Homo sapiens: one gene and its partners. The protein of the gene in region 1 interacts with the protein of each later gene in a biochemical or structural test. Each region holds a gene or a part of one and is shown in the gene's direction. Other genes may lie near its edges.

Evidence for each region.
Region 2: the proteins of PDZD2 (region 1) and CTNND2 form a complex in vitro, tested with the Homo sapiens proteins (2 studies listed by BioGRID and IntAct, with this or other methods).
Region 3: the proteins of PDZD2 (region 1) and PKP4 form a complex in vitro, tested with the Homo sapiens proteins (2 studies listed by BioGRID and IntAct, with this or other methods).

Annotation. Positions count from the first base shown.
Region 1 is NC_000005.10:31,634,665-31,642,182, forward strand, and holds the start of PDZD2 (PDZ domain-containing protein 2), read left to right. Parts: upstream 1-4,466; 5' UTR 4,467-4,773; intron 4,774-7,518.
Region 2 is NC_000005.10:11,894,419-11,901,537, reverse strand, and holds part of CTNND2 (catenin delta-2), read left to right. Parts: intron 1-7,119. UniProt on the Homo sapiens protein: Has a critical role in neuronal development, particularly in the formation and/or maintenance of dendritic spines and synapses. Involved in the regulation of Wnt signaling.
Region 3 is NC_000002.12:158,452,939-158,459,961, forward strand, and holds the start of PKP4 (plakophilin-4), read left to right. Parts: upstream 1-4,013; 5' UTR 4,014-4,192; coding exon of another isoform or gene 4,193-4,516; exon of another isoform or gene 4,517-5,369; intron 5,370-7,023. Other genes in the region: CCDC148 (coiled-coil domain-containing protein 148), read right to left, coding at 3,477-3,501; uncharacterized protein LOC124907900, read right to left, coding at 4,193-4,516. UniProt on the Homo sapiens protein: Plays a role as a regulator of Rho activity during cytokinesis. May play a role in junctional plaques.

The DNA of each region.
Region 1 (7,518 bases):
CGCCAGGCCTGTCTTGCTGGTGTCTTAATGTGTGTTAAGCAAGTAAACTCAAAGGTAAATCAAATCCCACCACAGTCCAAAAGAATCTACTTGGATAAACACTACACTCTACCCTATTGCAAAATGATTGAATCATCTATATAAATTGTGAAAGTCATACGTGGTCTGTAGTTACTAGTTTGTAATTCAGTTTTTTCTGCCAAAAATTGTATAAAAAAATTACCGTGGCAACCAATGCTTCAATAGTACAAATGGAAGGCTGAGAGACAAAGATATAAAATAATGGGTTGGCTTGTAAGGGGAAGCCCAGGAGAAAATTACAAATTCTTCACGTGCAGTATTATTAGACCACACTGGAAACAATAAAACACATTTGCATAAAATCCAACGTCACGCTCATGGATACAGTGAAACTCATTTTCAATGTACGTGGATGAAAAGTGCTTACTTAAACCTTTCCCCTAAATATATATTTTAAGACAGTATGGGCTGGGTGCAGTGGCTCACGCCTGTAATCCCAGCACTTTGGGAGGCCGAGGCAGGCGGATCACCTGAGGTCAGGAGTTTGAGACCAGCCTGGCCAACATGGTGGAACCCTGTCTCTACTAAAAATACAAAAATTAGCTGGGGGTGGTGGTGGGCACCTGTAATCCCAAGTACTCAGGAGGCTGAGGCAGGAGAATCACTTGAACCCAGGAGGCAGAGGTTGCAGGGAGCCAAGATCGCGCCATTGCACTCCAGCCTGGGCAAAAAGAGCGACACTTCATCTCAAAAAAAAAAAAAAAGAAAGAAAGAAAGAAAAAGAAAAAAACCAGTATGCATCAAATGCAGGTCCTTTTTTGTGTTTTGGCTAAATAAAATATTTCATCTGAGACGGGATAAATATTACAACATTTTTATCAATGTTTAAAATAAAGTCTTATCTCTACAGTACTATGACCAAGTACTGGAATGTGACCTTGGGCACCCTCTCAGCTGTCATGTCACTCTACTTCAGTGTTTCTCCAAGTTATCCTGTGTGGGCCACCCAAATTACAATCACTGGGGTTCTGGTTAAGGGGCATCCAGGGGCTCCCCAAAGACCAAGTATATAGTGATCTCAGGGGGTGAGTCTGGAGTTTTTTAAATTTTCAAACTTCTGGGAATCCTTAAGTGTAGTCCAGACTGAGATCCACTGACTTAATGTTTTACTACCATCGTCACTCATTTGTTCTTTTTCTTTGAGACGGAGTCTTGCTCTGACTCCCAGAGAGGAGTACAGTGGCGTGATCTTGGCTTACTGCAAACTTCACCTCCCAGGCTCAAGCAATTCTCCTGCCTCAGCCTCCCCAGTAGCTGGGATTACAGGCGCCCGCTATCATGCCCAGCTAACTTTTGCATTTTTAGCAGAAGCTGGGTTTCACCCTGTTGGCCAGGCTGGTCTCGAACTCCTGACCTCAAGTGATCCGCCCCTCTCGGCCTTCCAAAGTGCTGGGATTACAGGCATGAGCCAGGGCACTTGGCCTCATTTGTTCTTTTTAAGCCCCTTTCTTGGCCAGGAGATGGCTCGTTCTAGCGTGAGGTCATGAATGGAAGAGTTAGTGGCCAGGAATTTGTGGAAGAAAGAAAAAAGGGTAATTCGCTAGGTAAACAGGAAGCTAGAATCTGTTTTGGAGATAAAATGAACCCACAGAGGCTGGGAGGAGAAAGGGAATTGAGCCAGTTGTTGACTAAGGCTACTTCTCCTCCCTTGAAATTTACTTGGAAGAGCAGCTGAGGCGGAAAGATGGAAAGCAGTCTTTTCAAGAGTTGGTAAGCAAACCTCCAGTTTTAGTTTCAGCTGCCTGGTCTGTAGATTTTTCTTCATAGAGGGAGAAAGCTCAGAAGTAAACCACATGGCACTGCAATCCATGAGAATCTACTTGGACTCACCTAAACCACGCTACATTCTGTCACTGATATAGCTTGGGATCACACATTTTTTCTTTGTTTATCATTTTAATCTTCCTTTGCTCTGAAGTCTTAGATATTCTATATACAGCCTCCTCCTCCTCCACATCACATATATTATGAGCACTAAATTAAAATGGCAACTTTGATAGAAATACTAATCTGTGACTAAATGTTTAACAAGGGGGCAAAAAGGATTTACATTTTGATCTTCAAACATTGGAAAATAAATGCCCTCAGTTGTCAGCTTTCCAAATTGACAAGACTGCAAGGGCAAAACAAAATTTCCATGCATTTGATTGACCTCTGTGAATTGAGCTATTATTAGCAGATAAGAACTTGCCAAAAATATCTGGAAAATATCAGCTGAAAAGTGATTGAAACGAAGTATTTAAAGCAGGTCAGCAGGGCCATGTCTGAAGGAGACAGATTATAAAATACATCTGTATATATTGTATTTATACATAATATATGCCACATATAACATACATGTATATACCTAACAATTCATTTTAATTCAGCAAATATTTATTGAGTGGCTATTGGGTCGGACACCATGCCACCCTAGGCTTTGGGAACACAAACAATAAGCTTTAAGTTCTCTTACCTCCAAGAACTCACAAGCTAGAAATATGTGAGACAAAACGCCATAATTCCTACAACATAATACACCTGACAAGGGTTAGATGAGCAATTTGCATAAAGTGCTACCATTGCAGCAATTAACAAGGCAGAGGAAACGTGATGTTTGTTCTGATGATCAGAGAAGCCTTTCCAGTAGAGATGACATTTACCTCCTTGGGATTTCAGCAGACACAGGAGAGTGAGAATGTCACTCTGGCAGAGGAAACAGAATTTACAGATTAGGAGTACATGGCTGGAATGAAAGAGTTGGGGATGGAGTGGATAAGAAATAGCAGTGACTACAGTTTGAGTGATACATTTATTTGCATATTCATTGATTCAGCAAACTTTTCATTGGTGCTGAGGGAGGTAGGCCCAAGGTATGTGCTGGGTACAGAGGCTGAGAAAACACGGGACAGAGTGGTGGAAGATGGGCCTGGGATTGTGGAAAAAACAGAAAGCACCAGCCCTGTTTGATCCTTCTAGAAGGATTTTTTTGTAGTGTCCCAATGATACCTTTCATTGATAATGGTTACCATTTCATTGAGCACCTCCTAAGTGCTGTGCTGAATAGCTGTGTTACTGCTAGTTCCAGCAATCCTGCATGGTAGGTGTTTTCTCTATTTACACATAGGAAGAGAAGCTCTGAGTGCCTGAGTGCCCAGCTTGTCATATACGATGCTTGGATTTGTGCAAGCATTGATCTCAATGGCCTGGTAATTATAAAAGCTGAAGAACAGCTGAAATCAAGAACTTCTCCACCCCAGCCCCTGAGGACAATACCACCTCCAAATGCCTTGGGCCCACTCTGGTCTCTGGTGTGGTGGGACAGCGCTGTCCGGTCTGCGCAGGTGATTTATGTCTGCCTGCTTTTCGGAGAGGCCAGAGTTTATTGCCTTGCTGGGCAGAACTGCAGCTGGGGCCTGCCCTGTCCCATCCCCATCCCCCCGAAAGCAAAGATTTCCAATTACTGTTCTGTAGAAAATGTCAAAAGCATTATTCAACTATTCATTATCCCAGGTTTTGCAATTTTTCATATGTTTTTACTCTTATCTGCCAGCACTTGAAAAAGACCAGCTTTTTCCTCTTAAGAGAGCTTAATTTGCAGAGCTGTGCAGTCTTCCTATTATGTTCTTATCATCCTCTCCCTTTGGTAGGCAGAATGACAAGGATGACAAAAAAAGAACCAAAAATATTTGAAGGCCTTCCTGAAAATCCACCGGAATGAAGGATCCCAAAAGCCTGAGGCTCGGTTCCTCGAGTGACCTGGACGGGAGCCAAGGGCGGCTGGCATTAGCTCTCACAGTCCACTCGGCAGGAGCTCGTGGCTAGTGCTCATGGGACCAAAACCACCACCCCAGGGCCATGGGATTCCCCCCCAGGGGCTTAACTGGGGGATTAAGCAGCTCTGAGGTGCCAAGAGGTCCCCTCTCCCCGAAATCCTCGTACCAGTGCTAAATTACCTTTGGTATCCCAAGGACCAGAGGCTAAGGGTAGCTTGGGGTGAGTGGTTAGCTCTTCCCCCATCTCCTGTGGCCCCTCCGCCCCATTCTTTGATAAGGTAACTGACATTTTTCTCTTTGCTGTGTAAAGTGCTATGCAGAGGCAACTTCACGTCCCCTAGCTCGCTCTGTTCCACCTAGATGGCGCCCTAAGCCCCGCCTGTATGGAGATTCGGAGCAGCCATCTCCCTGGATGCCTTCCTCCCACGATCCCCAGGTTTCTGAAGCGGGCGCACCAGGACTCCTGGCTCACCCAGAGAGACGCCTTGCCCGCGGCGGGGCTCGCTCGGGGAAATCCCCGCCCACCTTGTTATTCCTGCAGGGGAATCCCCGCCCCCCGTCCCTGTCACTCGGGGAAGGGAGTTCCCGCCCCTCGAATCAACCAGGGGGAGGGAATCCCCGCCCATCCTGGAGGCTCGGCGGATCCCCTGCGCAGCGAGGCGAGGAGCGGACCCCAGCGCCGGTGCGTGCCGGCCCCGGGCAGCGGGACGCGGCGGGGCGGCGGCTGCAGGCAGCCGAGGAGCCGCAGGCCGAACCCAAGGCACCGGGATTGCGCCTCCCGCGGCTGCCGGCGAACCGCGGCTCTGCAGCTCGGGGCAGGCGCGGCGGCGGCACCGGTGGTGGCCGCGGTGGCGGCAGCTGCGCGGGGACCCGCCGGGCGGCGCCTGGGTCTGGACGCGCGAGGAAGCCGCGGGAGCCTCGGCCAAGCCGCGAGCAGGTGAAGCGACCGTCCCGCTGCAGCCGGGACGCGCGGCTCCGGGTGGGCAGGGGATGGGGGAGGCCCGGCACCCCCGAGACCGTGTGTGCCCAGGAAAGTTTAGCTACAAATCCGGGTGCGGGAATCCCAGCCCTGGCAGGGCGGGGAGTGAGGACGCCGAACCGGGGTCCCACGTTGGGCGGCGCAAACTCCTCTAGCATCCGGCCGGGGACGGGGAGGGCGCAGCCCAGGGGAGGGGGCTAGACAGAGCGGGACCGAGACAGCGGGACAACCGGAGACGCACTGCCGGGGGTACTCAAGACAGGGCCGGGACCTCCTGCTCGGGCGCGCATCCCGGGTCCCCATCCCTGGGCCGTCTTCTGGTCCCTTCCTCCGACAGGAGTGGAGGTACTCAGGTACTCCGGCCTCAGGTAATGTCTTGGGGACCATCCTCCCTCGGGCTTGTTTCATCTCTCAACCCCCGCCTCTTTGCCCAGATGAGACGTTAGACGCGGGGCGAGGGAATGCAGGGGGCGCGCAAAGATCAAGGGCATCTTAGGGCCGGTTATTGGCGTCTGCCGGGGAGATGGGGAACATAGTGATAGGGAAATCCTGCTCTCTCTCTGAAGTCGAGTTTCTCCTAAAATCTGGTTTCTCCCTCCCTCTGTTCCTCTCTCCCTCCCTCGGGTTTGCGTTTGTGTTTTAAGTCTTTGAGCTGCCTGTGGTCCCCGCTATTTGGAAAATCCATTAAAGCGCAAGGCTGAATTCAGCAGCAGGAGGGTCCAGGACCCCTGGCAGGAGTTTGCCAGAAGCTGTCCTCGGCAGCCCAAATCTATGCAGAGACCTTGATAAGGGACACTGGAGTGGGAAGAGGACAAGGTCTGGCATGGGCTGGTCGCAGAGACTGGAATGGCAGGCACGAGGGCATTCCAGAGCTCCAGACCTGCCCTGGGACTGGCCGTTGGGCAGTGTTGGGGGATGGAGCTGAGTCTGAGTCTGTCCCCTGCAGCTGGCCTAACCTCTTGCCTCCACCAAAGGTAGGGTAGGTGGATATGTTTGCCTTGACAAATCGCAATGAAACTACTGGAAGTGGTTGCTGAGTGGCTGCAGTAAGTGATGCCCTGATCTGTCCTTGCAGAGAGACCCCCTGGACCTTCAGGGCCTGTTCTCCAGTGGGGTCTCTGAACACTGGAGGGCTTTAGGGGCCTGGCATCTCTACTGGGCCAGCTTTTGTGGGTTGTGACTTCTGGGTGGTGGCCAGATAGGTACAGGTTGGCAGGTGTGAAGTGGGAGTGCTGCTTGTGGGGGCAGAAGAGAATGTCTCAGAACACACCCCTGGCTGTAGGTGGTGGTTCTGGCTTCATGAATTCCTTCTTCCATTAGGATGGGCCCAGAGCTTCTGCTCCTATAATAACCACCTAGTTGTGTGAGTGAGTGTGTGTGTTGCGGGGGTTAGGTGTAGGAGTAGGGGGGTGGCAGGTGCTAGGAGAGGAAAAATCAGAACCATGTAAAGTATATAAATGTACCTACCTTGACATAGTTAATATGCTCCTGGAAAAATATTGAATTATACTTTAAATCTATCGCTGAAATTGATTTTGCATGTACTTTATGGCAGTTTACTATTTAAGGAAACTTATGATAATTTCTCTGTTCATTTCAATCATTTTATTTTTGGAATACCTGTGGTTTGCTGTGCTGGAGGCTGAGGAGGCTTCGAGGTTCCAGGATATGCTTAGATGAAAGATGCTCCCTCGCTGCTGTCAGTTTGTCAGTTTCTGTCCAGCAGGAGAAGGGAGAGAAGCCTGCTAAGCACTATGGTGCAGACCAGTGCACATGCTGCATGTAGTAGACGCCATGTGTTTATTGGATGAAGGAGTGAAGAGATAATTAAGTGAGTAAAGTACCTGAAGAGTGGTCCAAATAAAACATTTTGGGAGTATGGAGGAAAAAGAAGTCACTTTTGCCAGAGAGGATCTGAAAGGCTTTGTGGAGGAGCTCTTAGGTAGAAGTCGAGAGGTTGATCCTGAGTTAGGACTCAGTGCTAAGGACTCAGAGGAACTAAGGACTCAGAGGAACTAAGGACTCAGAGGAACTTAGTTCTCCAGATAGTAGGGAGATGTGTGAGATATTTTTTTTTTTTGAGACTGGGTCTCATTGTTGCCCAGACTCAAGCAATCCTCCCACCTCAGCCTCCTGAGTAACTGGGATCACAGGTGTGTGTTACCACAACCAGATAATTTTTGTGTTTTTTGTGGAGATGGGTTTCACCATGTTGCTTATGCTGGTCTCGAACTCCTGGGCTCAAGTGATCCTGGTGTCTTGGTCTCCCAACGTGCTGGAATTAGAGGCATGAGTCACTGCGCCCAACCTGGCCCCTCGTTCTGCTCCTACACAACCCTTTAGCACACTCACCATGCTGCCCTGGGTGTGTTTCTTTAGGGCCTTATTTTTTTCATACCCAGATAAGGCCTGGAACAGTTGCTAATCAACTTCCTCAGGTTAGACAGGAAAAGAGGCAGAGGGAACACCCCAGACCCCACTACCCCCGGCTGATCATACTGTAGGGTGTTGTGGAAACCCTCTCCCAGAGGCTCCAGGCCTGGTGAGCTGAACAAGATAACACAGAGCTGTGGATACCCCCTTGCCTTTGATCATGTGGGCCTAAGTGACTCGGACCATGGTGGTGGGGGCATCTCTGTTGGAAGGTCTCTCCTACTGCACCATCCACAAGGGGACAAATTCCAAAGATGAACCCACAAAAGG
Region 2 (7,119 bases), about 20 Mb from region 1:
TTACAGTATTTCTATCCACTTTACATCTTTCACAATAGAATATAAGCCAATTCTTTCTCCCAGTGAAATTGTTCATCAGAGACAAAAATGAAATTCAAATACTAGTTTGCAAATGCAATTTATAGTTTTGTTAAATAATTTCTAAGGATAATATTGCTTTCATAATAGTTTCTAAAATTAAAAATGAAGTTATAATCTCAAATATAATATTACTTTGGCATTTAGTTGAATATGCAGTGTATTTGCAGAAAATGTTACAGAACTTGCTCTTTTCTGTTTTGCCTTATCAGACTTCTTTCTTGTGTGGTATGAATTTGTGTGGACTTGTCGAAGGGGTTTTCAGAGTAATTTCATCAGGTTGTCTTTAAGAAAACATTAACATTACATTTGAAATAATTTATTGTAATTTGTCCATAGGGTCAGTACACTATGTATGGACCAGTGTATACAGCTGTAACAAGCCAATTGAATTAAAATAGAAACTGTTACATTTTGAACTTCCAATGTTTTCTTCTTTATGATTAGCCACAGAAAATGGGAACACCCATTTTTGTTTTTTCTCTGTGCGAACATTATTTTCACTTCTTAGAGGGAAATCCTTGATGCTAGTCTCACTTTTCCTAACAGAGTTTTTATTTTTAAAAGACTTAACATAGTTGGGAGTACTTAAACTTGGATGTCATAATTCAGACAATGAACAAAAACTAAGCATGGACTGCTAGTCATTTTCAAGTCCAGTACTTCAGCTGAAGGTGTGGTTCTTTGCTGGCTGATTTGCAAGTTGGAAATACACTGCCAAGCCAAATTCATTGTTGGCTTCCATGATGGTTTTCCTCATTCATCTTCTGAAGGTGTTCTCCTGTCCACAGTACTTTGATAGCCTTCTGGTGTGTGAAAAGTTAATTTGAGTAGGAACAGTTCATGATACTTGTTGCTAGCTTCAAGTTATCTGATTATATGCCAAAGCAACAGCTTTTTATATTAATATAAAATATTAAACATGTCATCAATAAATAGTTTCTATCACATTGTCTGCCAATCCAGCCTACTGATTAACAAACTGCCTGGTTGGGTTTAATAAACTCAGTTATAGTCACAAACAGTACCTCCAACACAGGGAACTCACAGAAATATTTTATCATACTGTGCTTTTTAGTCCATTAAATATTAAGACTCATAACAAAAATCTGCAGTTATGACACCTCCAGTTGTTTATCTTTTGATCACATAGCAGTTAAGTGCAATTCCAAGCTCTGAATCATGGTTAATTGATTTGTAGGAAGTGTCTTAGCTATGTCAGGATATTGAAGTACCTGTATCAATTAGTTTTTGACAAATTGGAAATAATGACTAAATAAGTGAAACAATGCTTCCTAGAACCTTTCTATCTTAGATAAATATTCACCTGTCTCTCTTGGCACATTACGTGCAAAATGAATTACATATATTGAAACATTTTATTGGGTTCTTATATATTATATATTACAATATTTTGTAATAAAGTTACACATACACACACACACAAACACGTTATATGTCAGAGCCCAACTATTTCTCTAGAAATATGTTTGTGATCTGAAATGACAATTATTGGAAAAATAAGTTTCCCTAGTGTAATGCTGTTTTGCATTCTGCTTCTGGTGGGTACAGAGATGTGGAGAGAGCACTGGCTTTTGGTGGATTCCAGCCCTGTCTCTTCTTAGCTGTGTATCCCTCACCATTTATGTGATCCTCAGTTGTTAACTCAGTTTCTTCAGCTGTAAAATGGGTAGAATAAGACACAATATCTTAAAAGATTTCTTTGAGGATAAAGTGAGTAAGAGCATGGATAAGTGGCTTGTAAATTACAAAATTTATGTGAACACAAGAAATCAATATATACATATTAAGACAGGTACTAATGTTTTATACATATCTAATTAAATAGGTTATCTAGGTTACCATCCTCTCTAACAAAGGATATTAAATGGCTGTAATTTCCCTACCCCAACCCCTATTGTAATATTGCTTCATTATGCAGATTTGCTTATAAAATATGCTAAACTTTCTATTCTGAAACATACCAGCCCTTTATATATTAAAGTATATAGCAGTTAAGCTAAAGGAGAAGTAAATTATATCTCCCAACACCATTATTATAAAAGATTCTAACCCAGTAGAAATTACAAAACTTTGATATTCTTTATTAGTGTTATATTAGTCACCTGATTAAGATCAAATTTTCTACAAAGATTAATGTTGTACAAAGACTATCATAGACAGTTTAATAAGCATCACTCTCTGTGAGGTCAGATATTACACATCCGCTCTGTTTAGAACCACCGAGCATGAATCTCATCATCATGTCATTATGATAGAGAAAAAAGAAACCTTAAACAGCTAAATGTATTACATAAAGGGAAGACCCCCTCCCCAATTAAAATCAAGTCCTTGAAGAGAACTAAAAAGTGTGTGAATTGGTACCTCTTTGAAAATAGATGGTCATTTTTGCTTTGTTTCACTCTTAAGAGCTTCAGTGAAGACAAAAAAGTGCCCAGCTCTTCCAGGTTGGAAGATGTCCAGCTCCTTGGGATGATCAAACCCAGAGGGGCTTCATTTAGAACTGTGATCTTCAGCAACATAATTTTTAGGATAATTACGATTCGATGTATCTTGGAATTTGTTTCAGAATGTGAGCTGTATAATGGGGGACAAATTTATCTTCAGTCAGAAAAACATTTTTACAATAAATGTGGTTATTTGTATTCAAATTTATGTGTTGTTGTGGGAACTGCCAATTATAAGTTACCAGAGCAAAATACATGTTATGATAAAAGGCCTTACTGGGTTTTTTTGTTTTTTTGGATCAAAGTAAGCAGGTGAGCCAATTATATTTGGTTAAATAAATATATGTAACATTTCTACAAGTTTTGAATGATACAGAAATGTTACTAAATAGGATGTTTACTTTATAACACTAGATGATGGGGGAACAATTAATTGGATCATTGATATTAGAAAATACACTTCTCTTGCCTAGGTAAAGGCCAGAGAAGTGTATTAGTAACATTTTTGGTTTAACAGATGTGATTATCACAACTGTCATTAGAAATTTTAAGAAAACTGCATTTTGTGCATGTTTTATGCAGTTCTTTCTTTTGGTTTAGAAACCTCCTTATAATGTACAAATGCTTTATTGTATTATCTCTTTGCATTTAAATATGCAATTACATAAACCACAGAAAGGTATATAGTTACTTTAAGAATTACAAAATGTGCAGGAATGTGGGTTGTTGGTGTCTTTAAGGAATCAAATAAATATCAAGCTCTCCTCCTCCCCACTCCCCATCTCAGCATGTTGGGATATTGGAAGGGAAAAAGATAAATAATTGGCTGCCATGGGCAAAAATATCAGTTTTGATTAGACATAGCTTGGTGTGGCAGTTGAATTACATCCCAGGTCCTCTGCCTTCTTTCCCTCCTCCCTCCCCACAGGGACAGAGCTTTTTCTGAGCTGGCAGAGCCAAGCCTTGCTCTCTGCAGGGAGGATGATCTCCAGAGGAAGAGAGAAGCAGCAAGGCAAGCTGCTTCTTTATTCTTCAGAGGCAGAGAAAGTGAAAAGCTGGAGAGAGGCCAGCAGTGTTACATTAATTAAGTTCCCTTTGCCTGAAAGGAAATATCAGAATAGAGAAGAAGTGTTCCCCATTGGCATGGTTTATGAAGAATTCTAGTTGATAGAATTCTGGATATAGTAGCTTTCACAGTACTTTGCTTGGTAGTTGAGCTCTTTAAATATTTCATGGTATTTTGACACTACATCAAGAGTTATCAAGGTAGCGTCTAATGCCCTGGTTGATTTGTAGCAACTATGGTCCATGAAATTCAGCAGATTTATGTATAGCCAACTTTAAAATAACTTACCCTTGGCGTTCTTCCCCTATTTTTCATGTTATTCTTTAACTGCCAATAATTGGATCGCTTTGTAAGTGGTGAGAATTAGACATAAAAAAGATGATGTTAAAATCTGACTTCCCAAACCATATATAAGTGATCTAGGCTAGCTATTTTCCACAGCTTTTTCTGCCTCAGTATAAATAATTAGATTTTGGTGGCTGTTTGATGTTTTGCAATTAATAGGAGAAATCATGGACACAGTAAAGAAAGAAGATAAACATTGCTTTTCTAAATAGATACGATGTTGTATTTAAGTCTAAGCATGACTACTCAATCTAAAAATGCTCACTTTTTAAAACAAATTTTATCCTCTGTCACATATTTTATTTGGACTTTCAAATATTAGACTAATATAGCAGTCATTACCTTCAACAGTATACAATAATGTAATTTCCAGAAAGAGCAACCTCTTTGGTAGCTCCAAATGTAAAAGAGCCACAGTTCAATCTCTCATCTCTAACACAGTCTTCACTGGTGTGGAGCATTGTTCTTGGGGTCATGGGGAAACCAAATAAGGAAGAAGAATCCTCCAGAAAGACAGACAGGTGTTATATAAAAAGTCTCAGAGATAGTACAAATTGTCTCATTAACCCAGGACATGGAAGGTTGATGCAGGAAGGCTGGGGCTTGTAGCATCTGGATCAGATTATTTGTGTTGCTTAACTCAGGTTGAAAAAGAGTAATGTTAAATTCATAGCAGGTGCATAGATATATTATGGCACCTCTAGCCAAAGAAATATGCAATTATGAATTATAGTTTCAGAGTAGCTAATTATATGAGAACTATTCATAATACTAAAGCTAAGAAGATAATCAAGGCAAATAACTATATTGAATGTGATACCCAGCACACATACCCACTCCCAAATGTGAGAACACTGAGAACACAGTGTTTATGTCAGGGTTTCAAGAGTTTTGTTCTTTATATATTACTTTTCCACTAAATATATCATAGTTTAATATATATATTACATTATGCAGAAGAAAAGCATGCCTTTCCATTCTTGAAAAGAATAGTATATATTTATTTTGGGGTGAAGTTCATTAATTAGCTGAATGCATGACTTAAAGTTAACAAAGGTCATTCATCATGGAATGTAGATTACACAGATTTTGATCAGCCATACTTACATTTTCTCGCCTTTAAATTTGAGATTTGTTTGTTTTCAAAAGTAGTGCATGCTCATTGAAAATTCAAAAATACAGAAATGATTAAAAGAAGTTAAAATTCATGCATGGTTGCAAGCCCCAGAAATGACCATATTTTTAGCAGAGATATCAAGCGATACACATTTTTAAATTTAGAAAACATTGCTCATATTCTGTTTAGTTACCTATTAACATCTCATGTAATTAGTATTTATTTTTAGTGTCTGTTTTCCATACCTTTATATAACATTATTTACTTACATCACTCTGTTATTGGAGATTGATGACATTTTCATTTTTGGTAGTTATATTTAATGCTGTAATTAAGATCCTAATAACTAAATAGTTGTCATCAGGTTATTTACTCTAGATTACTTCCTAGAACTGGATGTTTTCAAGGTTGTTGATATATGTTGTTCATTTGTCTTCCAGGAAGATTATATAATTTATATTTCTCTCAGCAAGGCAGGAGTGTACAAATTTTCCCATGATTTCAACAACACTGGGTGTTGTAATGAGAAAAATAAAACTTCTAATTACATAGGAGAAATATTGTGTTTTTCTCTAATTCATTTGCTTCTCTATTAATATTCCTGAGGTTAAATATTTTCTAATTTGTTGGTGTCTACGTCTAATTTTTTTGTGAATTATCTTTTTATATCTTATACACATTTCTCAATTTATCTATTTTCCTTTTTTAAAATTGATTTATATTGTTTGTCTATAGTAATTATGTCACTCTGTCATGTCTTAACAGTTTATATATCATTTTATTGGTTCCTATTTTGGGAGCATAATTCTAAAGCTTGAAGTTAAACTTACTCACTTGTCCTACAGGAGTTCTTCTTTAAGGAAACATTTTACTGCTTGCTGATTTCGTGTGTCCCAGTAGTAAATACAGCAGTGGAGCAAATGGTTGAGAAAATAGCTTCAAAGTTGTACCCCAACTGACTGAGTTCATATCCCAACTTCATCATTTTCTAAGTGAACGGTTATTTTACTACTAAGTGTCATAACACAGGGGAAACAATAATTCCTGTGTCTTCAGGTTGTTGCGACGGTGAATTAAGAGACCATGGACTTAAAATACATAGCAGAGTATGTGGTATATTCACTATTACAACACACATTAGCTGTTTCTACTGCGAAATAATACAGATGCCAGATGCTTTTCTGTAATTCTGGCGTTTGCTTTTCCCACATGAAGCATAAACGCACCTGCACAGACTCCAGGATCACTGTGTGAAAAGGCAAGGTGTTTGTGGCAGTCCGGGGCTCACAGGTGCAGTGCTTTGTGTGTGGTTCTGGCACTTGACTGTGTGTTCTTCAGGGATGTCTCATTTCTCAAGTTCAAGTTCGTTGGGAAGAGCCAGGACACTGTTTTTAGGCAAACACATGATTTTCTACCTTCTCCCCCTGCTCTCAGGCACACACTCCTTCTCTCTGGTCACATAGGACCATGCTTCTCCCCAGCCCCACCCCATACTGGTAATCTATCTTTTAAAATAATTGATCCACAAATCATAGGATAGTAGTAGGCATGTAACAAACACTTAGTTCATCATTTGGGGCAAAAATGGTTTCTGAACCAAGGTTTCTTTGCTTGCTTTGGGTTGGTTTTGGGTACAGACACTGCAGCACCCTGGAGGGACCACTGCCTTAGGATGCCAAGTTCTGGGATCTAAATCGTGCTTGGCACTTGCCTTCTCTTGTGACTTTGCATCTTTGCCTATTTTGTCATTTGTTCCTTGGGATAAAAACTCACAGGGCTTTGTTGAATGTGCTGTGATAATTTAGGTGAAAATGCTTTGGGAAGCTTAATCATAATAAACATTTAAGTATAAAATATATTCTCTGGAACTTTTGATGCACTTCAAAAATACAGTAATGGTGGGGGGTAAGAGTTAGAGTCAAAAGATTTTCTTGCCTATAAAACTAAATCTCTGAATTTTGTTACTAATGTGTTTATAAAATGCCCACTTCCATAGTGGTTGTAAAGATATTGCTACATTTCATGCTATTGGCTATTGCCTAAAG
Region 3 (7,023 bases), on another chromosome or scaffold:
GCTTAGCAAAGCTGAGTTTCAAAACCTCTATTCTGCTCTATCATACTTTATCTGATTTTTCCACATTGTACAGCTAATCCCAACTTTTCCTAATTCTCTCCCAACATCCTGATTCCAATTTTTTATTGTTCAAAGTCAAGTTCTTCCAAGAACTAAACAAAGGACTAATAAATATTGGCTTTTCTTAGTGTGGGAGGTGCTTCAGCAGTTTAAGGCAGTGAGGGACACAATCATGATCATGATGTGGATCCTATCCCTTAGGGGAAAAGGCTCACACAAAAATAACCACACCATTTGATATAGAGTGTCAAGGGTCACAATACAGTAAGGAAGAACTCACCCTCTCAAGAAGGGGGAAGGCCAGGAAACTTTCAGAAAGTTTTTACAGGTAATCATTAGGCAGAGCCATGGGAGGATTTGTATAATATATTCAGAGGATGGGGATGGGGTGGGGCTCAGCCAATCCTGAAACCACCAGAGCCACCTGAGCGGAACTATTATTAAGCCCTAGCAACCCTTCTCAGGCCCCGCTTATTCCATTACTCTCTTTCCCTCCTTTGCCACCCACCTCTGTTTTAACATTCCTCTTTAAAAAGAAAACCCCAAAATTATCAGTATTGGCGTACTTTTTGAAGATTTTATCTTCACCTCCCCCACTCCTCCATAGACACCCAGGTATGACAAGAGACTCAGTGCTCCTGCTTCCTCCTATTCCTTGCTGCCTCTGCTATGCTTCTTAGGGAATTTACCACTAATCTTTAGGGGATAATATGAAAAAAATAAACATTGGAAAGTTACAAAGTTTTCGTAATCTTAAAAGTTTCAGGTAGACTTCTTTCTGAGCTGGTAATTGAAAAGTTGTTTGGATTTCTGCTGTTTACTTTCGTTCTTGAGGGTGGAGTCACCAGACCTCCTAATATTCTAACCTTGCCCTGGGCCCCAGTGTCAGCCTGAGCACAGGCCCTCTCCCCACCCCTACTTTCCAGCACTTTTCCCAAGGTGGCCAGGCTAGCAGTTTAAATCATCCTCTTCTCAAGCCAGTCATTTGCATTTCTGTGGATCCTCAGGCTAGGTAACAGTGGTTTCATTCCTTCACTGGAAATCTGGAATTGGGCCATTCCAACTTGGAGGCAAAGGACATTTTTGTAGGAGAGAACTTAATTGGCAAAATAAGCTAGGATTTTGAGGACAAAGAGCACAATCTTCAAAATCATTTCAGTGGTATTCAAGGGCCAAAACATTGGCAACAAAGTAGAAACCTCAAGAAATTCCCTTCAGACAGTTTCTTGGTGAAAAGAAAGGCCAATAGATAGAGATGGTGGTAGGGTAGAAGGAAGGTGGTTTTACCAAAAGCCAGATATTTGGAAGGCTTAGGAAAAATCTTTGGAGGAGAGGGTGTAACACATCATGTAAGAGAGAAATTATAATCAATAGAGCAAAATCCTGGTAGAGAGAAGATGGCTCATGTTTAGGAGCATAAGTGGAGTATGAGCCTTGAAGAGAAATGTGGTCACCCTTCTCAGCCATGACTGAAGGAGGTGAAGATGTGTGAAAACTAGGACTGAGGTTTAAGAAAGTTAAGTTGAGGAACCTCATGGTGGATCCTTCAGTAGAGTACGAGGCAAGATCATTTGCAGAAGTGCAGGAAAACCACGTAAAGTGGGGGCTTCAGGAGAGCAGACATTGGACAGGTTTGGAAGTGGCCTGGATAATGTTCCTGGATAAGTGTTCCAGATAATCATCCTCCTGATGAGGAAAGGAACTGAGAATCAGTGAAGACACAGCCAAGTCTGAATAGCATGAACTTTTAGTGGAATGAAGTGATTCTTTAACCTTGTCTAGCAATGCTTAGTAGCGCAGGAGCAAGTTCAAAAGAAACCTTTCAACTAAATACAAAAATAAACAAAAAAATTAATGTTGAGTGGCAACTTATTTCAGGGGACATTATTCATGGTGGATTTCAGTAACATTTTAATTATGACAAACACGAAATCTACAATATCAAAATAGTCATCTGAGAAAAACACCCACACAAAAAGATTATTGGAGTAATAATCTTTTATTTTCTTCTTTCTATGCTAGCCTAAGGCAAGAGAAAAGACCCATTTTTTCTTTCCATTAGACACAACTTTCATTCATTTGATGTTATTGAAATTTAAAAGAAGCAAAATCATTGGTATCTTTTCATTAAACATGTGTCTCATATAACAATTTGTGGTTTACTTTTTCTGTTCTATAAACAAAAACACACATTAAAAAGCCGGAAGAAGTAAAAAACAGCCTATTTCCATGATGGCCAGCCATGGCACAGCACTTCCTGGCCCCTGCTGATCCCTTCTCAATTCTGAAAATATTTAGGGGGAACATACACACGTTCACCTGTTTTGTTCCACAGTCCTACCCTGTGTAGGACTGTCAACTGAGTTCACATTTTACTACAAATGTGGAGAGGTTTTTTTTTTTCCAATCAAGGCACCATATTAACATTTCTTAGGTTACATCTTTGTAATCTTCAATTATAGTAAGATAAAAACCAGTAGCAAAGCATATCACCCAACTTAAAATTCAGAACAATACTTAGACATATGCAGCTTGCACACACATTAACCTGTTTCTCCCAACAAAATATTTGTAATTTCCAAAATCCTATCAGCTTTTTCACACAATATGGTCCCTCCAATTTGAGGGGTAGTAACATAGTCTCCTTACTAAAGAGATTAGTCTAAAAAAAGTAAAATCGCCAAAAGAATGTAAGAATATCAGTGGCTATAGGCTAGAGCAATATCATCTTTTAAAGCCTAATATGTTCATGAAATCTCACTTTAAGAAGGTGATATCTAAACATAAAATTTATTGACAAAAAACAATTAGTATTGATAAACCACCACAAAATGATTTTAAATGAAAGTAGAAGACATTATTAAAGCTCAAGATTTTTGCGTGTACTGATTTCATGCCTCAGGTTATTTCCATATCAAATTTAAAGAGATACTGGAAAATAGAAAACAAAATCCATCAACTGTAATCCATTTCCCTTACTCTTTTGTGAAATCATCACAAGGTGTGAAGGATTGTTTCTGTTTCCTCTATCTTTAACAAGCCTGTAACCTCTCAAGTGAAAGAACATGCACCTGTCAAGCTCATAGTGCGGGATGTACACACAGATGTGTTTAATAAATATCTGCCCACAGGGAGATTAGAGGTTTGCTTTGAGAATCAGGGAACAGGCTAGCTCATGTGTTGACGCTTTGGCATCTATCATACAATCCGCCACCTCGTTCCCTTACCAAAATATCCTCAAAGGAAATCCTCTTTGAGTCTTTCAGAAGAGTTATGAGTTTGAGGACCCAAAACGTTGAGGAAAGATCCACCCCAGGGAAGGGGGAGTGGCTGCAGAGAACAAACATAAGTAGGATTTAGGTGGCTCAGTGACGTCAGGAGGAAGCAGCGATGGAAGGGATGGGGTGCAAACTCACCTGGAGAAGCAGAAGCTGCACACATGTCAAAGGTCAAAGGGCATAGCCTCAGGGACTCCCCAAACGCAGGAAAAGTGAAACGCCCACTCCTGGGCTCTCGCCGTCAGGGGTACATCTAAGGGCTCAGCTGTTCCTACCTTTGACGCCAGGGACAAACCCTACCAGGCACAGTTGGGATTGGCAGTAAGGCAAGGAAAGCCTGCCCCAGATTTCAGAGCCAGCGCTGGGGAATCTCCCTGTCCTCTCCGCCACCCCCTCCCGCGCCCGAGACCTGAGACACCTTCTCTCTCACACCCACCCTCTCCAGGCCCTCTCGCGCTGAACAGCATCGGTCTCTATGGCGACCTGAAACCGCAGCTCCCATTGGCCTGTTCAATATGAGGGCCGGGCCAATGGGGAGGGCCAGCCCTCTCCTTCCCGCCAATGGGGTGGCGGGAGCTGGCCCGGGGACGGCGGCGTGCTGACGTTCCCGGGAGCCCGGGGCTGGCCGGGCGGGAGGGCTGGCAGCGGGGCGGGCGGCGGCGGCGGCCTCTGGGCAGTAGAGGGGGCTCCGGGGCTGAGTCCGCGTCGACGCCGGCCGCGGAGGCGGCACCATGGGCAAGGGGTAGAGGGGCAAGTTGGCCACCGCCGCCGCCGGGGGTGGTGGGAGAGCCGCTCCGGGGGCGGGGGCCGGTGGGGGAGGGAGGGGCGGGCAGCCGCGCCGCCGCGGCACTTTTTTAATTTTTTCGGGTGCCGCAGCGGCGACCCCTCGGCGCCGATGTCCCTGATCCCTGGAGCGACGACGGCCGCTGCCTAAGCTGGAAAGTAAGTGTGTGGGCTCGCGGGAGGGCGCGGAGACTCCTGCCCACGAGACCCTCGGCCCTCGCCCCGAACACGCGCCAGGGCCAGGACCTGCGCGCCGGGGGCCGGGGGCCTCCCTCCCGCTGCCGCGTCCCCAGCGCCTCGCGGCCGCCGCGGCTTTCCTGCCCCGCCTCGTGTTCCTGCCCGCACTCGCCTGCTGCTCCCCTCCCCCCGGCAGGCGCACAAGTTTCACCCTCCATTTGCTTTTCCCGGCGATTCCTCTCCCCGGTCTCCCGTACGCGCAGCGCACGACCTCTGCCCACGCTGGGCTGTTCGGATTCAGAGCTCCCAGCCCCGAACTTGAGCGCCGCGCTGAGCCCTGCTGGACGCCCTCGCGGCGGCTTCCCCGCTGCCTGCCGCCGCGCGCCCCAAGTCGCCCTCGACACCACTGGGCGCCCGCCCTCCTCAGCACTCGGGGCCGGCTGTCTGTCCTTCTAGCCCCAGATCCTGCACCTTGGTCCCCTCCCCGTCTTCCCACGCCCCTGCTGCCCGCGCGGTCTTGCGTTTGTCCCCGAAGTCCTGTACTCCTTGCCGGTCCTGCCCACCCCTCTGCCTAGTGCGCCCCTCTCTACCGGCCGCGGATCCTCACGCTCCACCCCTCCCGGCTCCCCAGCGCCGAGCCTCGCCGCTGCCCTCCTGCGCCGCCGCTTCCTCCTCTCCCTGCCAGGAGTTGAAGCGGAGCTGCGGCACCTCCCTGGCGGATCTGGTATCCCCGCCCGCTGCCGAGGCTGCCGGCCCTCTCCCCTGGACCGCTACCCGGAGAGCGAGCGGCGGGGCCGGGATTTGGCTGCGTGTTGGCTGAGTGCGACACACCGCGAGCGCGGGCAGTGGAGGTGCCGCGGCGGCCGTGGCCGCTCGGGGCGCAGCGGTAGTCAGGTGTGTGTGTACAGCGGGGGACGCGCGCTGCCGGCTCCTGGGCTGGCGACAGATTGTGCAGGAATGCGAGGAATGCACCAGGGGCAGAGTCCACACAGCCCGCCGCGGCTGCCCTAGCGCCTTCCCTCCCCAGCTCTCGCCGCGCAGCCAGAGGTCACCGGAGCATCTTCGGAGCTGGTGAGCCTCATTCCACTCCTCTCCTCCCATAGCTTCCCTCCATGCGGCAGAGGGGAAGCGCGGTAATTCTTTGGGGCTCCAGCTAGCCTTTCGTCTGGGTTTTTGCTGCATTGGTCTTCAGGACCGTGAATTTGGGGCCGATGACTGTGTAGCCAAGGTTATTGATCATTGCACAGGGCTGTTGGCAAGTTTGGTGTGCAAGGTTTGGATAGTGCCTGGTTTTCACTAGGGTTTTCTGAAAACCAGCAGAAACAGGGGGCCTGAAGGTTGTTAGAGTAATGAGCTTGCAGCCAACATATTTTAGCTCTATCAAAAAATGCCTGTTAGTGCTCACGGGCATGTACTGCGAGAGAGATCTTGAATGCATCACTTTGGTATCCTAAGAAGTGTAATTTTTTTCCCTCGTCATACTGGGCTGTGTTTAGACCTCGTATAATACATAATGAATAGAAACAGAGAAGCACTGTTCGGTCAGCGATGGGACAGATAGAACTGTCTGGTACAGTTAAATTCGGGACGTGTCAGTTACCATTGAAAGTAACACGGGGACACCACAATCATGTATATTTCAAGATGTAATTTATTAGTGGAGGTCTCAGTTTTTTCTCTTTGTTACTGAGTTTGACTGAAAAAAAAAAATAAATGCTGCCCTACAAGTTTTAAAGAACGGTAATTATTTACGTGTAAAATCAATGATGGCTAGTATGCATTTTTGGTCAAATTTTGTTTTCCTTAATACGGGAGAGCAAAATTTTGACAGAAAATGGTTCGCTAGAATTGAGCTTAGATTCTTTTTATTTTTAAAGAGAAACTAGAAGAATGCTTCTCTTCTTGAATGCAGTATATTGCTGTAGGAGTATCTTCGTTTTGGTGCCTGTGAAACAGTTATGGAAAATGGCAACATGAAAACGAGAACAACTAATGTCTGAAATAAGTGTTTCTGGGTGTTGAAAAGCATCATATGTGTGTTTTTATTTGACACAATTTGCTTTGCAGGTTGCATTTATGATAAACCTCTTTGCACCTGGTTATTTTATGTCAGATTCAGTAAAATAATAAGTCAGTTGTCTGACCAATCAGCTTTCTTCCAACACCTACTTTGTGTAGATCATGGACATTGAAAACTATTAAATAGGAGCCTTTAGTTAAGGACTCAACAGAAAGGAAAAAAAATAGAAAAAAATATTTTGCACTCAGAAACGTTTATGTTTTGGTTGCTACGTTGTTTTTCAGCTATGTGCATAATCAGTGAATCTTCTAATTTAGAGGTTTAATTTGTGTCCAGTAACACTGTGGAGGATATTGGGAGGTGTTTGTAAATGCCAACAGGAAACTTTTATTATGTAACAGTATCATATTACAGCAGTGTTTAACCCATGCTTAACCCGTGCTTTTTTGACTTGATGTCAAGATTGGGAAGTAAAAGCAAATTTAGTTTCCCTGCCGCATTAGAAATTGAAAACCCTGTTCAGATGTATGGATCACACACACACACACACACACACGACACACACACACACGATTGGCTGTGCAGATAGTTTTGCCTGCTTCAGGTAAAGGTAACCTTTCAGTTAGAAATGCTTTCTATTTGTTACAGATATTCAAAGAGTGGAAGTTTTTCAACTAGTGATCCTACACAATTGAAAATAACCGA